Linked DNA regions of Homo sapiens. The protein of the gene in region 1 interacts with the protein of each later gene in a pairwise test. Each region holds a gene or a part of one and is shown in the gene's direction. Other genes may lie near its edges.

What was found.
Region 2: the proteins of MORC3 (region 1) and RETREG1 interact in a two-hybrid assay, tested with the Homo sapiens proteins (one large-scale study listed by BioGRID and IntAct).

The regions. Positions count from the first base shown.
Region 1 is NC_000021.9:36,367,677-36,373,103, forward strand, and holds part of MORC3 (MORC family CW-type zinc finger protein 3), read left to right. Parts: intron 1-1,311; coding exon 1,312-2,200; intron 2,201-4,697; coding exon 4,698-4,855; intron 4,856-5,427.
Region 2 is NC_000005.10:16,610,498-16,613,997, reverse strand, and holds part of RETREG1 (reticulophagy regulator 1), read left to right. Parts: intron 1-3,500. UniProt on the Homo sapiens protein: Endoplasmic reticulum (ER)-anchored autophagy regulator which mediates ER delivery into lysosomes through sequestration into autophagosomes.

The DNA.
Region 1 (5,427 bases):
ACTACAGAGCATAATGTCTGGAAGGAGAGCCACTCAAAGACATAGGATCATGACATTTTTTTAACGCAGGGAATAAAAGATTTTTTCAGAAAGAAACAGATTATGTACGGGCAAGAGATGAGGAATTAGAATGGCAGAAACACTTGAATGGCAGATGAAAATGGAATGATGCTTTTAAATTTCTGAGAAAATAATTTTTCAACCCGGAAGCCTATATAACAGTTAAGCTAGCAATAGACTTGAGAGAGAAATAAAGATGTTTTCATCATGCAAAACTTTGCGTTTGTTATGTTCTGTGTACCCTTCATTAAGATGCTGTTGCAGGCTGTGCTCGCCCAATATGAGACAGTCCAAAAAAGAGGAAAATCCTTCCTGAGATCTAGGAGGTCTAACACAAGGCCCAAATAGCAAACCAGTACAAATATTCCTCCAAGTGTGGAAAAAGGCAATCAAATGGTGATAAATAAATGTGAACTATGCACATATTAACATGAATGAACAGGGAATGATGCAAATGAAGAAATTGGGGCAATTTTAATTCAGATAAAATTATTTCATATGAAAGGATAAATACTGGTTTGCTTTATGGCTTATCTTTGATCACTGATTACTGATAAAAATTATTATGGGCAAATGAAAATGGTGGTGCCATTCCCTGAGCTGAAGAATACAAAGAAGGGGCCGGGGTGGGTAGCATTCTGTTCTGGAAATGTGTACATTGAAATGCCTGGAGGTGATCAAATGCAGAGATGTTTGGCAGTAAATAGATCTGGTACTTCAAAGAGATCTCAATAGTCCATCGTCTTCATCTGTAAAAAGAGAAAATAATCTCTACTTCATTAAATCAGTGATTGGTACTATACAATGCGTCACTTTAAAAAATGAGCCTGGGTATTTCTTAGTATTGCAAAACTTATAGCTGGGCACAGTGGCTCATGTGTCTAATCCCAGCACTTTGGGAGGCTGTGGCAGGCAGATTGCTTGAGCTCAAGGAGTTTGAGACCAGCCTGGGCAACATGGGGAAACCCCATCTGTACTAAAAATATAAAAATTAGCTGGACGTGGTGGCGGGTGCCTGTAATCCCAGCTCCTCAGGAGGCTGAGGCAGGAGAATCACTTGAACCTGGGAGGCAGAGGTTGCAGTGAGCCAAGACTGTGCCATTGCACTCTAGCCTGGGCGACAGAGTGACACTCCATCTCAAAAAACAAAAAAACTGTTACAATACTGCATTTGTTAGAATGATTACTTCAAGGTCATCTATTTTGTCCATATTTTATAATCTTATGTTTTATGTATAAAATTTTTTTCAGCTTGAAACGGAGACTTTCTACTCGTTCCTCAATTTTGAATGCAAAGAATCGGAGATTGAGTAGTCAGTTTGAAAATTCAGTTTATAAAGGTGATGATGATGATGAAGATGTCATCATCTTAGAAGAAAACAGTACCCCCAAACCTGCAGTAGATCATGATATTGACATGAAATCAGAACAGAGTCACGTTGAGCAAGGTGGTGTTCAGGTTGAGTTTGTGGGTGACAGTGAACCTTGTGGCCAGACTGGTTCAACAAGCACCTCATCATCCCGATGCGACCAGGGAAATACTGCAGCTACCCAGACTGAAGTACCAAGTTTAGTTGTTAAAAAAGAAGAAACTGTTGAAGACGAGATAGACGTAAGAAATGATGCAGTGATTCTGCCCTCCTGTGTAGAAGCTGAAGCAAAGATACATGAAACCCAGGAAACCACCGATAAATCTGCAGATGATGCAGGCTGCCAATTACAAGAACTGAGAAACCAGCTACTCCTTGTCACTGAGGAAAAAGAGAATTATAAAAGACAGTGTCATATGTTTACTGATCAAATCAAAGTGTTACAACAGAGGATACTAGAAATGAATGACAAGTATGTTAAGAAAGAAACTTGCCATCAGTCCACTGAAACCGATGCTGTATTTTTACTTGAAAGTATTAATGGCAAATCTGAAAGTCCAGACCATATGGTATCTCAGTATCAGCAAGCTTTGGAAGAAATAGAAAGGCTGAAAAAACAATGTAGTGCTTTGCAACATGTAAAGGCTGAATGCAGCCAGTGTTCCAATAATGAGAGTAAAAGTGAAATGGATGAGATGGCTGTGCAGCTTGACGATGTGTTTAGACAACTGGACAAATGCAGTATTGAGAGGGACCAGTATAAAAGTGAGGTGAGTTATATCATCCAACATGTAGTCATGGAGTCCAGGGCCATTTAAACCTTAAGAAGCTGCCAGTTGGCTGGGCGCGGTGGCTCATACCTGTAATCCCACCACTTGGGGAGGCCAAGGCGGGTGGGTCAGTCACTTGAGGTCAAGGAGTTCGAGACCAGCCTGGACAAAATGGTGAAACCCCGTTTCTACTAAAAATACAAAAATTAGCCTAGCGTGGTGGTGGGAGGCTGAGGCAGGAGAATCACTTGAACCCAGGAGGCGGAGGCTGCCGTGAGCCAAGATTGCACCACCACATTCCAGCCTGGGCAACAGAGCGAGACTCTGTCTCAAAAAAAAGCTGCCAATTGCTTGATTGGAATGCTTTCACTTAAAAATAATTCTGTTCTTATTGAGTGTCTGTTATTCTACTGGTTCTCAACTGAGGAGAGGGCCTCCTGGAGGCATATGGAATTGTGTAGGGGCATTTTTGGTTCTTCCAATGTCTTGAGATGTGCATTCCTGAAAAATATTAGGGGTAGCCAGGTATGGTAAATGTCCTGTTCAGAATACCAATATTAACTTAATACCTCATTAATACAGTTAATTATGTTCTTTTTTGGGCATCAATTCTGCTTTTAAGTATAGTTAATCCTTTAGTTATGGAGTCATTCATTTTTCTAGATTATGTCTTTCAAGATTCCTGAGAGAAACTGACTTATCCCTTTTAAAATCTTTGATTAATATACATACATACATATATATATATATATATATATATATATTTTTTTTTTTTTTTTTTTTTTTTTTTTTTTTCTTCTTCTTCTTGAGACAGAATTTCGCTCTGTTGCCCAGGCTGGAGTGAGTGCAGTGGCCCAATCTCGGCTCACTGCAACCTCCACCTCCCGAGTTCAAGCGATTCTCCTGCCTCAGCGTCCCGAGTAGCTGAGATTACAGCACATGCCACCATGCCCGGCTAATTTTTGTCTTTTTATTAGAGACAGGGTTTCACCACATTGGCCAGGCTGATCTCAAACTCCTGACATCAAGTGATCCACCCATCTTGGCCTCCCAAAGTGTTGGAATTACAGGCGTGAGCCCCCATGCCTGGCCTGAGTTGCTTGTGTTCTGACTATCAGAACTGAGTCATCTGGCTAAAGGGTGCCTGGGAAATGCAGTCTTTATGCATGGGTTCTTCTACTGAGAAAGAAGGAGAAAAACGATAAATACCAAGAGACAAATGATAAATATCAGTAGCTTCTTCATATGCCCCTACTTCAAATTCAGGTAGCTCCTTTTAATCTATTTTATACATTTTTGTGTGTGAGGCCTTTGAAAGGATTTTCCTGCTAAAAAGAGTTTGGGAACCATGGTGTGGTGCTGTGCTGTCTCTTCCTTGGGAATATTTGCTACTCATGCAAACACTAATCTTGATGTCTTGGCTCAGGAGTTGAATGACAAAATACAGATGCTCCTCAACTTATGATGGTGTCAGTCCTGAAAAACCCATCATAGGTTGGAAACAGCATTAACTCCAACATTCATTTAATTACAGCCAACCTCCCAAAATCTTAGCCTAGCCTAACCTGCCTTAAAGTGCTCAGAACACTTGTGTTAGCCTACATTTGGGCAAAATCATCTAACACAAAGTCTGGTTTATTACAACATACTGAGTATTTCATGTAATGTATTGAATCTGTGCTGAAAATGAAAAACAGAATGATTGTATTGGTATGCAAAGTGTGGTTTCTATAGAATGCATATAACTTTCACACCATCATAAAGCTGGAAAATCATAAAGTCAAACCGTTGTAAGTCAGGGACCATCTGTTTATAAAAAGCATAAACTCATTATTGTAACTTAATTATAAGCTGATGAGTATGCAAGAAATAAAAACCACTGTGACATTAACATAATTTAGGCATTAGTATCTTGGTTTTTCTGTTTTGTTTTGTTTTGTTTTTTTTTTTTTTTGAGATGGAACTTCGCTCTTGTTGCCCAGGCTGGAGTGCAATGGCGTGATCTCAGCTCACCGCAACCTCCACCTCCTGGGTTCAAGCAGTTCTCCTGCCTCAGCCTCCCGAGTAGCTGAGATTACAGGCGGCTGCCATCACACCCAGCTAATTTTGTATTTTTTGTAGAGATGGGGTTTCTCCATTTTGGTCAGGCTGGTCTTAAACTCCTGATCTCAGGTGATCTGCCCACCTCAGCCTCCCAAAGTGCTGGGATTATAGGCGTGAGCCACCATGCCCGGCTGGTTTTTCATTTTCTAGGTACCACTTTTTTTTTTAAATCAAGTGGTAATATGTTGTATTCTCTCAGTGTAAAAAGATGTAGAAGTGAAGCTGTAAACGAATGAAGCCTTGTTTATAGAAAACTACTGGTTTTTCTTTGTGTATTTGTTTTTTGATAGTTGATAATGTTATCAAGCAGGTTCTCTATATTAGCTTGAAATTTCACTTTGCCATTAGTATTTTTAAGTTTTACAGTTATAAAGCTCATTTATATTTTTGTTAGGTTGAATTGCTGGAAATGGAAAAGTCACAAATCCGTTCACAGTGTGAAGAACTCAAAACTGAAGTAGAACAGTTAAAATCTACAAATCAACAGACGGCAACAGATGTTTCAACATCAAGTAACATTGAGGAGTCTGTAAATCATATGGATGGAGAAAGGTAATATTAAATGAGGCGTTTTTGTGGGGCTGCAATTATGGTTAGGATACTATTTATTTTTATCTGCTAGCACCCATCAAATAGATACTGTTCTGTCAAAAGAAGTTATTGATGGTCTGCTGTGACCCTGGTGTTATGATAGATAAAAAAGAAGTGACACTTCATTATCCTTCCTTTCCAGTTTCTGACCCTTTAGGTTCTATTTAAGTGGAATAGGAATTTAGAAGGGATAAAGCATTTGATTGGTCAGAGTGGTTTTAGAATGCTTTTTGAAGGAAAATAAAAATGGACAAGATATTGAAGAATAGGGGGAATTTGGCCATGAGTAGAAGACAGGAGACTTTTACTGAAACTCACTCCTTCAACCTGTTTTTCTTTTATTGTCGTACTTGGTACCATGTCTTTATGGCTTGCTGTCCTTATTTCACTGTATGCTCACTCTAATCTTTTAGGAAATTGCAAAATTATTAAAAATTGCCATAGTACAGATGATATTAGGAAGAAGTCCTATTAAAACAAGTAGATAGGCCAGGCGTGGTGGCTCACACCTATAATTCTAGCACTTTGGGAGG
Region 2 (3,500 bases), on another chromosome or scaffold:
GTTCAGAATTACTTGTTGCTTTTGCATTATAATTCATTGGAATTTATGACCCATTTATTAATGTCATTAAAATTTTGTTTTTTTTTCCCTTTTATTTGTTGCTCTGGGGGTTAAAATGATTTTCAAGGACATTACGTTTTCTTTAAATAATGTATTTCTTCTCAAATGATCTTAAATTATGTGATACTCTAACCTTCTGTGTCTTGGGAACTCTAAAGCACTGTATTTTCTATGAGAAAAAAAGATCAATTTTAAAACTGTGGGGAACCCAACCAAATCTGTCTTAAGCAATGGGATGTTGTTTTCACTTTAATTGATGTATTTCATTTTTGTGGAAGTAAACTTTTTAAAGATATATTTTTGAATGATTTAGCACCTGGCATTAGCAGTGGGTTTTAGGAGTCTGAATTTGACTCAAAAGCTTCAACATTTATTACCTGCCCATTATCTGCAAGATTTTGGGCAAAAATTGTGACACAGCCGTAACCAATGGGTATAACTAAAAGTTGCATGAATTAAGTGTGGTGGAAGATTCAGGAAAGGATAATTCATTTTGATATGGTTTTGGGGAACGTGGTATTGTGGATGGAAGAGATTGTGGGGTTCTTAATAAGGAGATCATGCTTAAACCTCAGTGGATAAGAATGATTTGGGAGATCTAGTAGATGATCAAGAGCATTCTAACCCTGAGGAATACAATGAACACAATAGCATCTTGAAGGTGTACCTAATATTTCAACCACTACACAGTAAACAGATGCAATGGCAGCATGGGCTGGTAGAAAATGTAGTGGGAGATAAGGTTGGCTAGGTGGTTTGTGGGGGCAGTAGTTGCCTCAGATGCTATGTTGTGTGTTTGGATTTGTTTTTTCTGTAGGCAACAGGGACCAAAAAAAAAAATACTTTGTAGAAGTATCCACAAATAATTTAATGGATAAGTACACTGTGGTTCATTTATTTATTATAAATTGTGATACCATATAACAATGAAAATACAGCTTTAGCAACAACAGGGATGAATTTTACAAATGTAATTTTGGTCAAAAGATGCACAAAGTAATATATGCTGAATGATTCAATTAAGTTTTAAATGGTGCAGGAACTGAACAGGATTGGTTAGGGATACACACATAGGGGATAAAACTACAAAGAAAATAAAAGACATTCTCGAATCCGAGACGTGCAGGCACACACACACACATATGCATTCTTATCTATGGTATATTTTATGAAAAATACTGAAATATGAAAAAATGCTAAAAAATGATATTCATGAGAACTCAGAGGAGTTTGGTAAAATAGAGGCCACATAGAGTGCCTGTCTCAAAAAGCAGGGTTTCCACAACTGAAGTAGATTGGGTAACAGTCCCATAGTTTTGTGGTGATGAGGGGCCTCAGATAATACTATCTCACTCATTTCACCAATGAAGAACATGTTTTTAGAATTTTTTCCTTCATTTAAAATTTTATTTATTTAAAAATTAACTAACATAGCCTTACAGTTCAGATGTTTAAATGTACAGAAGGGTAAACATTTTGATGTCTTCCCACGCCTGTCCCTGTCTACGCAGTTTCCTCTCAGAAGCAACCCATGTTGTACTTGTAAGCACATCCTGAAATGGAATGAGCCCAATGTAATAGAAAATGTTGGTTTTTTTTTAAATATCAACTTTTTGTGGTTTACCACCAATAAAATGCCCATACTGTAAGTATACAGTCAAATGTATCATATGTGCCTGTGTAACCATACTGGCAGTTGAGATCTAGAATATTTCATCACCCTTAAAGGCTTCTTTGCATCCCTGTTCTATCAGCACCCACCCCTGGGGACTGATCTGTTTCTGTCACTGTTGACTAGGTTGGACTTCCCTAAAGCTTTGTATAAATGGTGTTATTTAGGGTGATAGGGTGATGTCCTTTTTTTTTTTTTTTTGAGACGGAGTCTCTCTCTCTCTCCCAGACTGGAGTGCAGTGGTGCGATCTTGGCTCACTGCAACCTCCACCTCCTGGGTTCTAGCGATTCTCCTGCCTCAGCCTCCCGAGTAGCTGGGACTACAGGCACATGCCACCAAGCCTGGCTAATTTTTGTATTTTTAGTGGTGACAGGGTTTCACCATATTGGTCAGGCTGGTCACGAACTCCTGATCTCAGGTGATCTGCCTGCCTCAGCCTCCTAAAGTGTGTGATGTCTTTTGTGTCTGGCTTTGCTTACTCAGCGTAGTTTTGTGATTCATCTCTGCTGTGTGTATCAGTTATTTGCTGCTTTGTATTGCTGGGTAGTGTACCACTTTGATGATGTACCACAATTTGTTTATCCATTTGCTAGTTGATGTTCCTTCAGGTAGTTTTCATGTTTGACTATTATGAATAAAGCTATTGGAAAACATCACGTAGAAATCTTTGTGTGAAGTGTCTGTTTTTGGTGAGGAAAGTGGTAAGCCCTGATGGTTGCCTTGGATAGGCACAGAATGGAGTGAAAGGTCCGTTTCCTAAGTCTTGCTGATCGCTGTATTGAAATTTAATGGCTTATGATGCAGCTCCTCTTTTGGGCATGTTACATCTGCAGCCTAGAAAGCGTCTCTGATGTGATTTTTTTTTTTATTCAAGTTCTAGGGTACGTGTGCACAACGTGCAGGTTTGTTACGTATGTATACATGTGCCATGTTGGTGTGCTGCACCCATTAACTCATCATTTACATTAGATGTATCTCCTAATGCTATCCCTCCCCACTCCCCCGACCCCATGACAGGCCCTGGTGTGTGATGTTCCCCTTCCTGTGTCCAAGTGTTCTCATTGTTCAGTTTCCACCTATAAGTGAGAACATGCAGTGTTTGGTTTTTTTGTCCTTGTGATAGTTTCCTGAGAATGGTTTCCAGCTTCATTCATGTCCCTACAAAGGACATGAACTCATCCTTTTTTATGGCTGCATAGTATTCCATGGTGAATATGTGCCACATTTTCTTAATCCAGTCTATCATTGATGGGCATTTGGGTTGGTTCCAAGTCTTTGGTATTGTGAATAGTGCCGCAATAAACATATGTGTGCATGTGTCTTTATAGCAGCATGATTTATAGTCCTTTGGGTATATACCCAGTAATGGGATGGCTGGGTCAAATGGTATTTCTAGTTCTAGATCCCTGAGGAATCGCCACACTGACTTCCACAATGGTTGAACTAGTTTACAGTCCCACCAACAGTGTAAAAGTGTTCCTATTTCTCCACATCCTCTGCAGCACCTGTTGTTTCCTGACTTTTTAATTATCGCCATTCTAACTGGTGTGAGATGATATCTCATTGTGGTTTTGATTTGCATTTCTCTGATGGCCAGTGATGAGCATTTTTTCCATGTGTCTTTTGGCTGCATAAATGTCTTCTTTTGAGAAGTGTCTGTTCATATCCTTCGCCCACTTTTTGATGGGGTTGTTCGATTTGTTCTTGTAAATTTGTTTAAGTTCTTTGTAGATTCTGGATATTAGCCCTTTGTCAGATGAGTAGATT